Regions from separate parts of the Homo sapiens genome. Here region 1 is linked to region 2. Evidence: fine-mapped expression QTL. A gene starts in region 2. The other region holds a variant in brackets. All regions are shown on one strand. Distances are from middle to middle. Region 1 overlaps ZC3H7B (zinc finger CCCH-type containing 7B). Region 2 holds the start of TEF (TEF transcription factor, PAR bZIP family member).

Region 1 (8,323 bases), 46 kb before region 2:
TGGCAGGAATTGGAAACCTTTTCTCTGCTCAGTAACGGCACTGCGGCTGGCGTGGCAGATCAGGTAGGATCGGGGCTGAACCAACCTGTCTCAGTTTATCCATTATGAGAGGTTTGGATTCACTCTCTCCGGGTATAAATGACCTCAGGCAGTGGGTCCAGGGGCCTCCGCCTCCCTAGGAGGTACCTCCCGTGTCCACGGGGGCAGGATGTGGGGACAGGCCATGGCTGCTGTTGGCAGGGAGTGGTCATTGCCGGGGAGCCGCCGGGGGCAGCCTCACTCTTGAACCCTGGCCAGGACACAGTCTGGGCAGCCTGGTCCCACACGCCTTCCTTCTGCCTCCTGCCCCACATTTCCTGCTGTGTTGCCTTTTTTCTCACCAGCCTTTCTGCAGGTTCAGGCCCCTGGGCCTCAAATGTCTTCCTCTTCCCCACCCTGCCTTTCTCTGTCTTTTCGCTTTTCAAAGCCCAGCTCAAGGGCATGCCCCTGCCGAAACCCATCCTGCTCTCCCTGGCTCAGTGACTCTGCTTGGGAGGGGCAGCCGAGACTGAGGACTCTGACAAGGAAGAGCCCAACTGGGCCCTGCAGCCTTGGGCAGGTCCTTCAGTTTCTGCATTCTGAAATGCGGACCATCCCTCAACGGGAACAAGGGAGGAAAGTGCTTGATAACCTGGCACACACGACCCAGCAGGAAATGCAGTGGGCAGTCACTGTGGATAGCTGCTGTGCTGTCCTGAGTTGGGGACTCCTCCCAAGGGCCAAGACACTTGTGCACCCCAGTCAGGCCTGGCTCATCCCAGGGGGGTGAGGCAGGGCCTGGCACACGACTGAGACCCCTGCCCGCTGCTCAGGTAGACTTTGAGGCTTTCTGGAAAGTGAGAGATGGGCTATAAGAGCACTGATGGAGCCTGGGGTCCTGCCACCTTGTACATTAAGGGAAACTGAGGCACAGAGTGGGGAGGGGACGGGGCCAGTGTCACACAGCGAGGCAGCAGCAGGCCTCCCTCCTCCAGAGCTTTGCAGCACTTTCTTTCATTCATTCCATAAGGAGGCCCACAAAACACTCTCGGCCCTGGGCCTGAGAGAGCTGCGTCCTTGCCCTCAGGGACCTCCCAGCCTGCAAAGTAGGCAGTTGATGATCTGCCTTTGTAGCACTCATGGTTTATAATCAGAAATTATAGGTCAGGCATGGTGGCTCATGCCTGTAATCCCAGCAATTTGGGAGGCCGAGGTGGGTGATCACTTAATTTCGGGAGTTAAAGACCAGCCTGGCCAACATAATGAAACCCCATCCCTGCCAAAAATACAAAAATTAGCCGGGCATGGTGGCATGTGCCTGTAGTTCCAGCTACTTGGGAGGCTGAGGCAGGAGAATCACTTGAACCCAGGAGGCACAGTTTGCAGTGAGCCGAGATCGCGCCATTACACTCCAGCCTGAGAGACAGAATGAGACTCCATCTGAAAAATAAAAGAAATTATTAGGCCTGGCACATACCAGGTGCTCCAACGAGAAAACATTAAATGAATGAAAGGTGATTTGTCTAAGTTTACCCAGTATGGGCCAAGCACTGAGCTTGGGGTTGGGTATGTGATAAACAAAACAAATCTGTTTCCTGCCCTCAAAGAGCTCACAGTCTAGGATGGACATTAGGACATTAGGCAGATCATTTCTGGTTTCAAACTGTGATGAGGGCTGTGAAGGCAGAGTATGGGGAGACCTGGGCCATTGAGACTGGGAGCCCTGATTTAGACAGGATTCAGTGACATTTAAGCTGAGACCGGAAGGTTGAAGAGTTAGGGGCAGGGTGTGCAGGTGAAACAGCATTCCAGACCAGGTGGAAGGTATGTGCAAAGGCCCTGAGGCCTGGAGGAGCTCAGAGTGTGGGAGGAACCAACACCAAGGCAGAGCTGGGGGTCCTGGAACAGGAGATAGAAGCCAGACCGCTTGACCCCTGATAAGAAGCTCAGTCTTAGCATTGGGAAGGCATTGAGGGGAGGCAGCATTAATTCTATTCATTTATTCGGAAGGTATTTATTGAGCACTGCTTTGTACCCAGTGTCAGTTCAGACACTGGGAATAGAGCACCAAGGTAGCGTCTCATCACAGCAAGTGGAGCTGGGCTGGGCAGGCACAGCAGATGCTCAAAAAATATTTGTTGAATGATTGAATGACTGCGGCCAGGGGGCCACAGCAAATATGGGCTGAATGCCCAGCTCTCCAGGGCCAAGGCCGCAAAGCCTTGCTTAGTCTGCAGCCAGATGACCACAGATGGTGCCATACCTGGCACCAGGCCCCCCCCAGTCCCTGCCAGGCTGTTCACCCATCCCTGCAATCTTGCTGGGCTCCTCCTGCACATTCATAGAGGTCAGGAGGGCATGGTTAGGGAGGGCTCTAAGAAGCCCACAGTGGAGAGGACCAGTTCAGACCCTGCCTCATGAACTCAGTTTGCCCAACATGGTACAGCACACATGTGAGCACACACATGTGCACATGCACAAACGGAGTGCCCTAGGACACATGAGGGCAGGGTGGTGTCCCAGCCAGAGCCCCTGGCCTTCCGTGAGTTGTGCACAGACACAAGTAAATGCAGGCTGCAGGGGTCCCTGTAGGTTCTCCACCATGAGCACCATATTCATTCAGCCGGCTGGTCATTTCACATGTGCACCTGGAAGTGGGGATGGACCAGGCTGTGCCCACAGGGAGCTTCTTATGACCTAGGAGCCAGGCAGAGGCCCTGCAAGACAGTGTCTGTGCAAGAGCTGTCCCTGGCATCGTGGGGAACAAGATGCAAGGAGGGCTGTGAGTTCCAGGAACAGAGAGCCCAAGGCAGCCTTGGTTGGAAAGGGCTTCAGCGAGCCAGGGAAGCAAGACTAAGAGGAAGGGAGAGCTGGAGAGGGGGAAATGGCACTCATGACCAGGAGCACAGCCTGCACAAAGGCTAAGCAGCAAAAGAGACAGACACCCCAGATCACAAGACCAGTTCCTCCTATGGGGCTCGGAATAGCCTGGGCTCTGCAGTGGAACGTGCTTTGGATCAGATCCTGAGCACGCTCCTTATCTACGCAGGCCACTCCACCCCTCAGAGCCTTGGCTTCCTTCTCTTTTGCAGGGGTCCGGTACCTGCCATTTTGTGGGGGTTATAGAATTACAATGGGTCAATGTGAAAGCTCCCAGCAGGGCGTCTGCAGAAGAGATAGAGCTCCATAGACCTTTGTTGCCAAACAGATGTCACCAGAAGGAGTGCCATGCAGAAGGGCAGGAACAGTGAGCCTGGCAGGCTGGGGTGATGGCATGGGCAGGAGGGCTGAGAAGGTGACTTTGTCCTGCGTGGCCTGGGAGCCATGGGCAGGATCTAGCAGGGAGAATCACCGCTTTCCCTAGAGATGTTCATCTGGTACCTCTCTTTCCCTCAAAGACTTTATGTACTTACCATGAGGATAGCAGCTCTGTGATCCAGCGTGGCGGCCTTGGTTTGGCAGCCAATCTATGGTGGGCAGACACTCCGGAGACTGAAGTGCACACATTTGCCATGTGCTCTATGGCAGGCTCAGGTGTGGGAAGGAGGTGCAGGGTGTTGGTGCAGGTATGGATGGGGGAGTGTACAGTTCCAGGGGACAGAGTCAGGACAGGCTCTTGGGTCAGACAGCCCTGCTCTGATCTGTGCATAGCAGCTTTCTGGGCTGACATTTCCATGCCGTGGGATGATACCTCGCAGGGCGCCTGGACCGAGGGCTAAACCCCACAGTGGGTGTGAGATGCTGGCCTGGGCTGGCGTGAGGCAGGATGCTGGATGAGTCTAGCTGCTGGTCCTGTGGCTGCTGGTCCTGGGAAAGGAAGGCTAGTGGTGGAGTCTGGTCCTCCATCCGGCTCTCCGTGGGGACACAGAAAGGGTGGGGCCACCCAGGGCCTCACCAGGGAAGCAGGACTTGAGCTGGACTGTGAAGGACTCAGAGAAAAAGGGGAGGGTGTTCAGGACAGGGAAGGATGCACCACAGCCTGGAGGTTGGAGTGTGGGAACTGTTGAACGAAACAGCAGCTCTCCCAGCCCAACTTCCAGAAACTGTGCATCTAATCAACACAGGCCGGGCACGGTGGCTCACGCCAGTAATCCCAGCACATTGGGAGGCCAAGGCGGGTGGATCATTTGAAGTCAGGAGTTTGAGATCAACCTGGCTAACATGGTGAAACCCCATCTCTACTAAAAAATTCAAAAATTAGCTGGGCGCGGTGGCTCACACCTATAATCCCAGCACTCTGGGAGGCCGAGGCGGGTGGATCACGAGGTCAGGATATCGAGACCATCCTGGCTAACACGGTGAAACCCCATCTCTACTAAAAATACAAAAAATTAGCCAGGCGTGGTGGCGGGTGCCTGTAGTCCCAGCTAGTCTGGAGGCTGAGGCAGGAGAATGGCATGAACCCAGGAGGCGGAGCTTACAGTGAGCTGAGATCGTGCCACTGCACTCCAGCCTGGGCTACAGAGTGAGACTCCATCTCAAAGAAAAAAAATATATATATATATTCAAAAATTAGCTGGGCATGGTGGCATGCTTCTGTAATCCCAGCTACTCAGGAGGCCGAGATTAGAGAATCACTTGAATGTGGGAGTCGGAGGTTGTAGTGAGCTGAGATCACACCATTGCACTGCAGCCTGGGTGACCAAACGAGACTCCATCTCAAAAAAAAAAAGTTGGGTGTGGTGGCTCAGGCCTGTAATCCCAGCACTTTGGGCGGTTGAGGGAGGTGGATCACCTAAGGTCCGGAATTCAAGACCAGCCTGACCAACATGGAGAAACCCCATCTCTACTAAAAATACAAAAATTAGCCAGGCATGGTGGCGCATGCCTGTAATCCCAGCTACTTGGGAGGCTGAGGCAGGAGAATCGCTTGAACCTGGGAGGCAGAGGTTTCGGTAAGCCAAGATCGCACCATTGCACTCCAGCCTGGGCAACAAGAGCAAATCTCCATCTCAAAAAAGAATAAATAAAAATACAAAATAAAAATACAAAAAAGTTAGTCAGGCGTGGTGACGGGTGCCTGTAATTCCAGCTACTCGGGAGGCTGAGGCAGGAGAATTGCTTGAACCCGGGAG[G/A]TAGAGGTTGCAGTGAGCCAAGATCATGCCACTGCACTCCAGCTTAGGGAACAGAGTGAGACTCTGTCTCAAAAAAAAAAAACAAACCCAAAACACAAAGCACTTCCTGTGTGCCAGGCCCCGTTCTAAGCACTTCACACATAGCAAGTCATTTCATCCTGATAGCCTTCCCCAGCGGTGAGTGAAGCAGGCCCAGAGTGGATGGGGAACTTTGCCCAGGTTGTACAGCCTGCTCAGGCCCAGCTTTCCTCCAGCAGGAAGGCAGTGGGATCCCACCTGGGTTTATGCCCTTCTCTGCTTCCTGGGGGGCCTGGGGCTACCGTGGGAGAGGAGAGCCTGGGGACTCAGGGAGGGGGCACTTTTGTCTTTGAACTGCAGGCCATCTGTGGTGCTGTGGGGGGAGGCTTGCTAAGACCCTTGCCACCTTCACCGGGGTGAGGACCCTGCCCTGTGGTGGGTGGAACCAAGACTCAGAGGTTCTCTCCCTGCCCTCAACCACCCCTCCCTAGAGGGACAGCTGTGGGGATCCACTGAGCCCATGCCCCCACCTGCTGGCCCATCCAGCCCCTTGCTGGGCACCACAGGGGTGAGGACCCAGCACGTGTGAGGGCTTTTTTTTTTTTTTTTTGAGGTAGAGTCTCGCTCTGTTGCCCAGGCTGGAGTATAGTGGCATGATCTCGGCTCACTGCAACATCCACCTCCTGGGTTCAAACCATTCTCCTGCCTCAGCCTCCCAAGTAGCTGGGGTTACAGGCTCCTGCCACCATGCCCGACTAATTTTTGTATTTTTAGTAGAGATGAGGTTTCACCATGTTGGCCATGCTGGTCTTGAATTTCTGACCTCAGGTGATCCACCCACCTCAGCCTCCCCAAGTGCTGGGATTATAGGCATAAGCCACCACGCCTGGCCGCATGTGAGGGCTTTAATCTCCCCTGGCACTCTAAGTGCTCCTCGGTGCTGGGTCAACAGCATAGTCACGTGGGGAGGGGCTGGTGCTGGGTGCTGGGATCGGGGCCTTCCCAGCCACAGCGCCACTGTGGCCCTCTCCCCACAGGGAACTTCTAATGGATTGGGGTCCATAGATGACATCGAAACAGGTAATGTCCCCGATACGAGGGAACAAGTGGAAATTGGGGCCCCGAGAGGTCAGGGGAGTCGAGCCCCCTCCCCATCCCAGCCCTGTAGATGGGAGGGCCTCCGAGGGGTTCCCCACCCTGGTACTCCCTGAGGCATGGGAGAAAACAGTGGGTTGAGAGCTACAGACCCACTCAAGGAGGGGAGGGCATCTCTAGTCTGGCAGAGAGGGGTGCTGCCTCTTAGCTAGGTGCAACAGTCCCATGGCCTTCACTCCTGGCTGCCTGCACACCCCCACCTCTTCCAAAGCCCTTTCCCCTCCTCTTCCTCATTGGCTTCCAGAAAAGGTTGCCTTTTAAGAGTGTCCCCTGGAGAGGGCATTGCTTACCCCAGAAGAAGGAGGCAGCAGTGGTGGACATTTAGGCATTGAGCCTGGGCCAAGGATTGACATCATAGGACTGAGGGCCCCTCCCTGCTCTGGGGCTGTGGCCTTCCTTGACCACCCCCTGAGCATCTGCCAGTGGGATCAGCCGATGGGGAAGGCAGGGCTCCTGGCAAGAGCTGAAAGAAGAAGGGAAAGTGTTGGATGAGCATCACGGGGCCCGGGACGCCTCCTCCACCCTCACCAAGCAGTGCTCCCCTTCGGCTCTTGCCCACCCCATCCGCAGACTGCTACGTGGACCCTCGAGGCTCCCCAGCCCTTCTCCCCTCCACGCCCACGATGCCCCTGTTCCCTCACGTTCTGGACCTGCTGGCCCCCCTGGACAGCAGCAGGACCCTCCCCAGCACCGACAGCCTGGATGACTTCTCAGACGGGGATGTCTTTGGCCCAGAGCTGGACACCCTCCTGGACTCGCTGGTGAGCCACACCACCCTCCTTGTGCTCCCCTGATCCCCTCTCCCCGCTGTGTCCCCATTGTCCCAGGGGTGGAGGGAAGGCCCCAATGCTCATGTCATGTGTCTCAGGAGGAGGCCTCAGTAGGGACTTGTTTGGTACAGAAATGAAGCTGCACACTGGGCACGGTGGCTCACGCCTGTAATCCCAATACTTTGGGAGGCCAAGGCAGCGGATTACTTGAGGTCAGGAATTCGAGACCAGCCTGGCCAACGTGGTGAAACCCCCTCTCTACTAAAAATACAAAAATTAGCCGGGCATGGTGGCACATGCCTGTGGTCTCAGCTCCTCAGGAGGCTGAGGCCGGAGAATCGCTTGAACCCGGGAGGCGGAGGTTGCAGTGAGCCGAGATCACACCACTGCACTCCAGCCTGGGCAGTGGAGCAAGACTCCGTCTCAAAAAAAAAAAAAGAAATGAAGCTGCACAATGTCTGGCCAGAAGGGACCATAGTGAGCCCTGCTCCCACATGGGACAGGATGAAGCCAGGCGACAGGGTGCAGGTCTCCTTGCTTCCCCAAGTCCTGATGCTGCCCAGGCCTGGGCAGTCCTGTTTTCCTCTGACCCCTCCCTCTGTCCCTGCCTCATAGTCTCTGGTCCAGGGTGGCCTGTCTGGCAGCGGCGTGCCTAGTGAGTTGCCCCAGCTGATACCCGTGTTCCCCGGCGGGACCCCACTGCTACCACCTGTGGTGGGTGGCTCCATCCCTGTCTCCAGCCCACTGCCCCCCGCCTCCTTCGGCTTGGTCATGGACCCCTCCAAGAAGCTGGCCGCCTCTGTGCTGGATGCCCTCGATCCCCCGGGCCCCACGCTGGACCCCCTGGACCTGCTGCCGTACTCGGAGACCCGGCTGGATGCACTCGACAGCTTTGGGTCGACACGAGGCTCCCTGGACAAACCTGACTCCTTCATGGGTAAGGCCATGGGTGGGCCCGTTCAACCTCCCTGGACAGGTTGCACAGTGCTGTGGCCTCTTTGGTGCCTGGAGAGTGGAGTTGAGTTACAGATCTGTTTGTCCCCATCACTCCTTAGCAATCCCAGGCCATGTCTGTGTGTTGCCGTCTCTGCAGTGCTCAGCACAGTGTGGGGCTGGGCCTGAGGGGTGGGTGTCTTGTTCAAGATCAAGCAGAGGAGAGCTGCGACAGTCCAGGCCTCTAGACTCCCAGTCTGGTGCTCCCTGCCCAGCCTCCCGGGACCCTGGGTCACCAGGCTGGTGAGATCCCATGGGATGATCCTGAGGCTGGGGGCGGAGCACAAGGTCATG
Region 2 (8,323 bases):
AACACCAAGTTCTGGAGGCTTAACCCGCTGGTCTCACTTCTCACCAGCGTCACTTGCCTGTTAGGGTAGCTGCTCCAGGCTGGGAGATGAGTGGAGTAGGCATTATTCGTTTTGGATAACTACAGCTAAAAAAAGAAAATCTAAATCTTTACTTCCTCTTACTACATCCCATCTTTCTCATAAACACGTGTTAGAACCTTCCACTGTTATCATTAATCATTGTCTAATACTTTGAGAATGGGTTTTTCTTCCCAGCAATAATGTCGTATTAGCCATGAGACTATATAGGTATGATTCTAAGCCATCAAGTCTCCTCATGGCCAAACTAGCAGGTTTTTTAAAAAGCTTCCTTAGCTTCCTTTTTTTTTTTTTTTTTTTTTGAGACAGAGTCTCATTCTGTCCCACAGGCTGGAGTGCAGTGGCACGATCTCGGCTCACTGCAACCTCCGCCTCCCACGTTCAAGCAATTCTCCTGCCTCAGCCTCCCGAGTAGCTGGGATTACAGGCACTCGCCACCACGCCCAGCTAACTTTTGCCTTTTTTTTTTTTTTTTTTTTGAGAGGGAGTCTCGCTCTGTCGCTCAGGCTGGAGTGCAGTGGCGTGATCTCGGCTCACTGCAAGCTCCGCCTCCCGGGTTCACGCCATTCTCCTGCTTCAACCTCCCGAGTTGCTGGGACTACAGGTGCCCGCCACCACACCCAGCTAATTTTTTGTATTTTTTAGTAGAGACAGGGTTTCACTGTCAGCCAGTATGGTCTCGATCTCCTGATCTTGTGATCCTCCCGGCTCGGCCTCCCAAAGTGCTGGGATTACAGGCGTGAGCCACTGTGCCCGGCTATATTCTTAATAGAGACAGGGTTTCACCACGTTGGCCAGGCTGGTCTCGAACTCCTGACCTCAGGTGATCCGCCTGCCTCAGCCTCCCAAAGTGCTGGGATTACATGGGTGAGCCACCACGCCCAGCCCTGTATTGGTTTAATCAGTTTCCTTGGAATGTCCTTTGTCTAGGTTAGCTTCCCCTAAAGGTGTTTAAGTTTCGCCACACACAGAATTCTCACTAACAATTCTACAACACAACAAATTTTCTGTACACAATTAACTATTTTCACTACAGAGAGTGACACAGGCACCACACTAACCTCTGGGATAATGGATATGCCAACCAGTTTTAGTAAAATTATGAAAACTAAATTTGTTGAAGGTTTGCAACTGTGCGCCTACGCAAATTGGCTCACAGAAACCCCGTAAGGTAGGCCAGGCGCGGTGGCTCACGCCTGTAATCCCAGCACTTTGGGAGACGCGGGTGGATCACCTGAGGTCAGGAGTTCGAGACCAGCCTGGCCAATGTGGTAAAACCCCGTCTCTATAGAAAATACAAAAAATTAGGCGGGCACGGTGGCGGGCTCCTGTAGTCCCAGCTACTCCGGAGGCTGAGGCAGGAGAATGGCGGGAAGCCGGGAGGCAGCGCTTGCAGTGAACCGAGATCCCGCCATTTGCACTCCAGCCTGGGCTACAGAGTGAGACTCTGTCTCGGAAAAAAGAAAAAAAAAATTAGCCGTACGTGGTGGTGCACGCCTGCAATCCCAGCTACTCAGGAGGCTGAGGCAGGAGAATCGCTTGAACTCAGGAGGCAGAGGTTGCAGTGAGCCGAGATCCCGCCATTGCACTCCAGCCTGGGCAACAAGGGCAAAACTCCGTCTCAAAAACAAAAAACAAAAAACAAAAACACCATAAGGTAGAGCCTGCCCTAACTCCATTTGGCATAAAAGGAAAAAACGCTGGGTGCGGTGGCTCACGCCTGTAATCCCAGCACTTTGGGATGCCGAGGCGGGTGGATCACCGGAGGTCAGGAGTTCGAGACCAGCCTGACCAACATGGAGAAACCCCGTCTCTACCAAAAATACAAAATTAACCCCGTCTCTACTAAAAATACAAAATTAGCCGGGCGTGGTGACGCATGCCTGTAATCCCAGCTATTCGGGAAGCTGAGGCAGGAGAATCGCTTGAACCTGGGAGGCGGAGGTTGCGGTGAGCCGAGATCGCGCCATTGCACTCCAGCCTGGGCAACAACAGCAAAACTCCGTCTCAAAAAAAAAAAAAAGAAAAAAAGAAAAGAAAAGAAAAGAAAATAAAAAGAAAAGGAGGCCTGAAAAGGTAAAGCAATCGAGGCATCAGATTCAGAAAATGACTGAGGTTCAATTACAGTGGCAGTGAGAGCTTGAATTTTGGAATCAGACCTATCATCCTGTCTCTACCACCACCCAAAGTCCTTCAAATCTCTTGCTTTCCAGGCCTGGTCAGCTACCCAACTTCTTTTTCCTCCTTACCCCGCCGCAAAATTATTTTTATTTATTTATTTTTTTGACATGGAGTCTCCCTCTGTCGCCCAGGCTTGACTGCAGTGGCGCGATCTCGGCTCCCTGAAACCTCCACCTCCCAGGTTCAAACCGATTCTCGTGCCTCAGCTTCCCCAGTACCTGGGATTACAGGCGCCAGCCACCATGCCCGTCTAATTATTTCTGTACTTACAGTAGTGTCGGAGTTTCGCCCTGTTGGCCAGGCTGGTCTCGAACTCCTGACCTCAGGTGATCCGCCACCTCTGCCTCCCAAAGTGCCGGGATTACAGGCGTGAGTCACCAAGCCCAGCCCCAGCAAAATTCTGATTGCATCAGCTTGATAACTTTTAGCTGGCTGTGGGTGTCTGGATCATGCATCTACCCCCTGAACCAAGGACTATCACTATACCACCCCCCCAACCCCTCCTGCTAGAAGGGCTGGGCCACTGTAGGGATGCTGGATAAACAAGCCAAGCTCTCTGCCTTCCGGGAGTTAAGCGGGGAGTCTAATGTTGCCTGGGTTTGCAGCGGAGTCTGATCTGTACTATAAAGAGGTACAAAGTTCTGAGCGCTGTTTAGGAGCAGCTTTCCATTTGTGTACCGCGCCACATATTACATTTTTACGGATTTCTGCGGAACTCCCGGGGAGGCTTTATATTTTAAGAGAGGAGGTGGTTCTCCCACAAAACGTGGCATCGGTACCTGGTGTCAAGGAGGTTTTTGTTTTCTAGGTAAAAGAAGGGAGAGTTCTAGAAAGGAAAAGAATTTCACATCTGTTTGGGACTGTGGAGATTCTCTAGCCCAACCTCTTAATTTTATGGCCGAGGAAACAAGCTCCAGTGAAGCAACCGGACTTTCCCAAGGTCATAAGCTAGTAAGTGGGAGGGCGGAAACATGTACTCGGGCCCTGGCTCAGGTCAGAGCTTCAGGAATGCTCCCTCCACGCTAGTGTTGATCTGGATGCGTGGGCAACCCGACACCCCGCTCTAGGGCGGCCAAGCCTGCTCAGGCCATCCCTACGACTTGGCAGGTCGCGGTCCCCGGCCCTGCCCTCAGGCGACCTCTGGGTCGCGTGGGAGCAGAAGTGCGGGCTAAGCTCAGCGTCCCTGCCCCGCGACCCTGGGCAGAGTCCCCAGAACAAAAAGACCCGTCCCTCCCTTCCCCTCCCGCCCCGCCACAGCCCCGCACGTGCGGCGCCTCGTGCACCGCCCCGGGCCCCGCCCCCGCCCTCCATTGGCTGTTCCCGCGCCTTCCTCCTCTGCCCCCTCCCCCCGCGACCAGACTCGGCTGCGGCTCCACGTGACCCGCGGGGGGTGGACACGCCGCGCGAGCAGGAGCTCGGATAGGTCGCTTTGGCCGGCCTGGCCGCTCCGAGCTCCGCCCCTCTTCGGTGGCGCGTCGGGAAGGTTGCAAGTCGGGGACAAGAGGGAGAGGCTGCGGTGGTTGGGGAGGGCGGGGGTTATGAAGAGGGCGGTGAAGGGGGAACACTGGTAGGAGGGAAGGGACCGCGCCGAGGAAGGCCCACCACAAAGACTCCAGCAGGCGCCAATCAGGGGACACAGGGGCGGCGGGGCGGGGCCTCCGCGAGGGTCCTCACCTGGCCCCGCACGTGTCTATCTTATCCCGGCTGCCCGACCAATCACGGCCCGAGGATCTGCGCCTGCCCCTCTCGCAGGCTGGACCAATCCAGAGCAACGATCCGGGGAAGCTGGCCTGGCCTCATGAATAATTAATGTGCCAGAGCCGGTCCGCAGGCGGGGTAGCGATGGAAGGAGGCGGGGGCGCCATTGGGCGCCTGCGCAGTAGCTGCCCGTGTCGGCAGCTGCAGCGGGTCGCACGGCTCCGGCCCATCTCGGGGGGCGGGCGGGGGAGGCGAGGTGCGCGAGCCGAGTCCGGGGCACGATGTCCGACGCGGGCGGCGGAAAGAAGCCGCCTGTGGACCCGCAGGCAGGACCCGGTCCGGGGCCGGGGCGCGCAGCTGGGGAAAGGGGCCTGTCGGGGTCCTTCCCCCTGGTCCTGAAGAAGCTGATGGAGAACCCCCCGCGCGAGGCGCGCCTCGGTGAGGGCGGGGGGGTGGTCCGCGCGGGCTGGGGGCGGGGCTTATACAGGGGCGGGGCCTCGTGAGGGCGGGGCCGGGGAGGCAGTGGGTCAGGGAGCAGTGGTCCAGCGGAGGGGGATGGGGCCTGGATGACCAGGAGCCTGGAGGACGAGGCCGGGGGGCTGAGGACAGAGGGTCAGGGGCGGGCTGAGACGGTGGGTCTGGCGGGAGAGGGTGGGGAGAGGTTTTGAGGAGGCGGAAGGGGATCGGGAGCAGTCACTTAAATGACGCTCCAGGGCCCCTCCCCCGGGGCCACCTGCATCGGAGTCACTCGGGATGCCTGTTTAAATTGCTGGTTCCTGCGCCCCACCCAATCTGCGGTCACTGGGACAGGGGTCTTGCATTTTAAGGAGCACCCCACCGCACCCCCATTATTTTCCAAGTACACCAAAGTTTAGGAAGCGCAGGCCTAGGGTAGCGAACTGTCATCGTACGTGGCCTTACCCCTCCCGGAGGGACCTGGCTTCCTCCCTGGGTGTGAGTAGCGCCAGCTACTAGGTCCAACGGGAGCCTTTCTGTTGCGGGGCTTCTGCTGAGCGGGTGGGGGGGGTGTGGGCGAGTAGTGTGAGGCGCCTTGGGAGGGGAGTTTTGGGCCAAGCAGAGAAACGATGAGGGTCAGATGAGTCCACTGAGGCCCTTCGCCTGGTTGGTTGGGGCTGACCCTTAGATTCTGGGGCCACGGCGGCAGGACTGAGCTTCATCTTTTTGCCTAGGCCAGGAACGTCACTGGGGCGTATACGGAAAGCAGGTCTGGCCTTGTTTTTCGCCCTGGGAGATGGGGTGCAGGGAGCAGCAGGAGGGCCGCCTGTGGTGGGGTTGTGGGTGCACTGAGGTATACTTTGAGTGTGAGACCTTTGCATTTCCAAGAGCCATCAGTTATTCAGGGTTTGGGAAAGGGATAGGCCTTCGAGAGTTGTCTGGCCTGGGGAATGGATTTTCCTTTTTAAAATGCCATTTCTCTTCCTTTCCTGGGTGTATGCTGAGGCTCCCATCCCTGTGGCTGTCACTGTTGAGTTATAAATAGCTTCAGCACATCAGGTGAGGCCAGCCTCTCTCCTCCTGCTTTGGGACCTCATGTGCACAAACCCTTTTGTTTGTTTTTGAGACGGTGCTTTGTTCCAAATCTGGGGCTGAGACAAGCTGCAGGGACAGGTGTACACATCTGACAGTTTCTTGTTTGAAATTACCAGGTAATAACCATCCATAACAAGAATTCTACCCGATATTCGTAGAGTGCTCGCAAAGCACGCTGACATCATCTTATTTCATTAACAGTCCTAGAGGGTATTCTCCCCTCTTCCCAGATGAGGAAAATTGAGGCTCAGGGAGGTGAGGGTGCTTCCTCAAGGTCACACAGCTATAACTTTTGACCCTCAGTTTGGTGCTCTTTCTACTGTATCATGCTGGCAGCCACTGTTGCATGACCTGAGTGATGGACTAGTCCTTTATCTCTTACAATTTAAAATTCCACCTTACAAAAACACTGATTTAAAGTATCCTTTATTGCTTAGGCCAGGCAAAACCTGGAACTTATTGTTGCCTGTCTTTCACTATGGCTGCTTTTCTATCTCCTGCCTTCTCCTGCCTCCTTTGATCCCAAATGACCCCACCCGACATGGGTCACAGTCATTTCTGAACAGAGTGAGGAGTCCAGATCTCAAGGGAGGAGAGCAGGAAGGCCATCTGGCCCACCCAGCCCACCAAGGCTTGACTTTCTTACTTCTCAGTTGGTTTTAAACCAAAGCCTGGTATAGAAAGCAGTTGCAGGAATTCAGATTAATTTGTATTAGAAAGCCATGACCAAGTTGTTTGTCAAAACCTCCACCTTCTTAACTCACTGGGTGTGTTCATTTTTATTGGACCAACAAGCTGCTATTTGGTCTGGGAGTCCATGTGTGGCTGGTTTATTTCCAACTTAATCATATTTGATTTCTCCTTTTCACTTATAAATCCAGAGTTCAAAATTGTCTCCCTCAATTTTGAAAACCCATCATGAGCTTGTCATGATTTTATCTCCCACTTCCCTGATTAGCCTCCCTGTCACTTTGATTTCCTTCCAACCTTGTCACATTGCTCTCTTCTCTTTTTTTAATTGCCCTCTCTTGGATATCCACATGTGTAACTTTGTGACTGAGACAATTGGGTAGATCCAGTCCCCACTAATTGATTAGTTTTCCTTTGAATAGGAGCAGTCTTTCTTCTTCAACTCCACCCCTCTCCTTCCTCCCAGAAAACCTGCCTTCAGTCTTTTCTGCTTATTCAGGAATAAAGGTCTCTTGAAATGGTTGCTCTGAAAAGGGTCCTGAAAAGACAGCTCCAGGCCCTTTCTAATAAACCTAACCTGAATCTGTTTGCAAATCCAATATTCTACAGTTAGTATATATATTTTCCCATAGTCCACCGTCTGCCTACCCCTTGTTGGGCCCTTGAGATCTGGAAATAAATCAGTTCATACTTTCAGTGAGCCCACAGTAACAATGATGCCTACAGTGTGCCAGGAACACTGTAAAGACACTTTTTTTTTCTTTCGAGACAGACTTTCGCCCTCGTTGTCCAGGCTGGAGTGTAGTGGTACAGTCTCGTCTCATTACAAACCTCCGCCTCCAAGGTTCAAGCAATTCTCCTGCCTCAGCCTCCCAAGTAGCTGGGATTACAGGCATGCACCACTATTCCTGACTGATTTTTTGTATTTTTAGTAGAGACGGGGTTTCACCATGTTGGTCAGACTGGTCTCAAACTCCTGACCTCAGGTGATTTGCCCGCCTCGGACTCCCAAAGTGCTAGGATACAGGCGTGATCCCACTGCGCATGGCTGTAAAGACACTTTCAAATGTTATCTCTGGCCAGGCCCTGTGGCTTATGCCTGTAATCCCAGCACTTTGGGAGGCCAAGGTGGATGGATCACCTGAGGTCGGGAGTTCAAGACAAGCCTGACCAACATGGAGAAACCCTGTCTCTACTAAAACAAAATTAGCCGGGCATGGTAGCGCATGCCTGTAATCCCAGCTACTTGGGAGGCTGAGGCAGGAGAATCGCTTGAACACGGGAGGCGAAGGTTGTGGTGAGCTGAGACCGCGCCATTGCACTCCAGTCTGGGCAACAAGAGCGAAACTCCTTCTCATAAAAAAAAAAAAGTTATTTCTAATCTTCACCAAAGAAACATCTTTATCCTTATGTACAGTGGAGGATACCAAGGCTCAGAGAGGTTAAGTAACATGGCTAAGGTCACACATCAAACAGCAAGTGGCAAAAATGGGACTCCTCCCTGGGCTGGGTTGCTGTGGAGAAGCATAACTGGAGGGAACAGGACAGGGGAACACAGAAGTTCTTGGCCTGAAGATCTCAGCCCTTTCTAAGCTAAGGTATCAGGAAAGGTCAGAGACTCCATTTCCCTCCTTGTAGTCTCTCTCCTGCAGATGCTAATCCTACAGCCTATTCTGTTTTTGTTTTTGTTTTTTTGTGACGGAGTTTCACTCTTTGTGGCCCAGACTTGGGGTACAGTGGCATGATCTTGGCTCACTGCAACCTCTGCCTGTCAGGTTCAAGTGATTCTCCTGTCTCAGCCTCCTGAGTAGCTGGGATTACAGGCGCCCACCACCACACCCAACTAATTTTTGTATTTTTAGTAAAGACAGGGTTTCACCATGTTGGCCAGGCTGGTCTCAAACTCCTGACCTCAGGTGATCCACCCGCCTCAGCCTCCCAAAGTGCTGGGATTACAGGTGTGAGCCACCGCCCCCGGTACCTGGCTAATTTTTGTATTTTTAGGAGAGACAGGGTTTCATCATGTTGGCCTGGCTGGTCTCAAACTCCTGACCTCGGGATCCACTCGCCTGGGCCTCTCAAAGTACTGGGATTGCAATCCTGACCCCCCCGCACCTGGCCAGTG

The links.
Region 1: its variant is fine-mapped to the expression of TEF in whole blood (TOPMed, PIP 0.96).

Annotation. Positions count from the first base shown.
Region 1 is chr22:41,332,165-41,340,487 of GRCh38, forward strand. ZC3H7B (zinc finger CCCH-type containing 7B) reads left to right here. Exons shown (of 23, transcript NM_017590.6): 7 at 7-63; 8 at 6,149-6,191; 9 at 6,837-7,027; 10 at 7,652-7,973. Among named protein-coding and RNA genes, the nearest start is that of ZC3H7B, 35 kb to the left of the region's middle. The variant G/A (reference allele first, on the strand shown) is at 5,094.
Region 2 is chr22:41,377,807-41,386,129 of GRCh38, forward strand. It overlaps TEF (TEF transcription factor, PAR bZIP family member), which reads left to right and starts at 4,136. Exons shown (of 4, transcript NM_003216.4): 1 at 4,136-4,395. The coding sequence starts at 4,239. It overlaps LOC105373042 (a long non-coding RNA gene), which reads right to left and starts at 4,105. Exons shown (of 3, transcript XR_938271.3): 1 at 3,934-4,105. RefSeq lists silencers at 3,355-3,954, 3,985-4,684 and enhancers at 3,819-4,113, 4,895-4,974.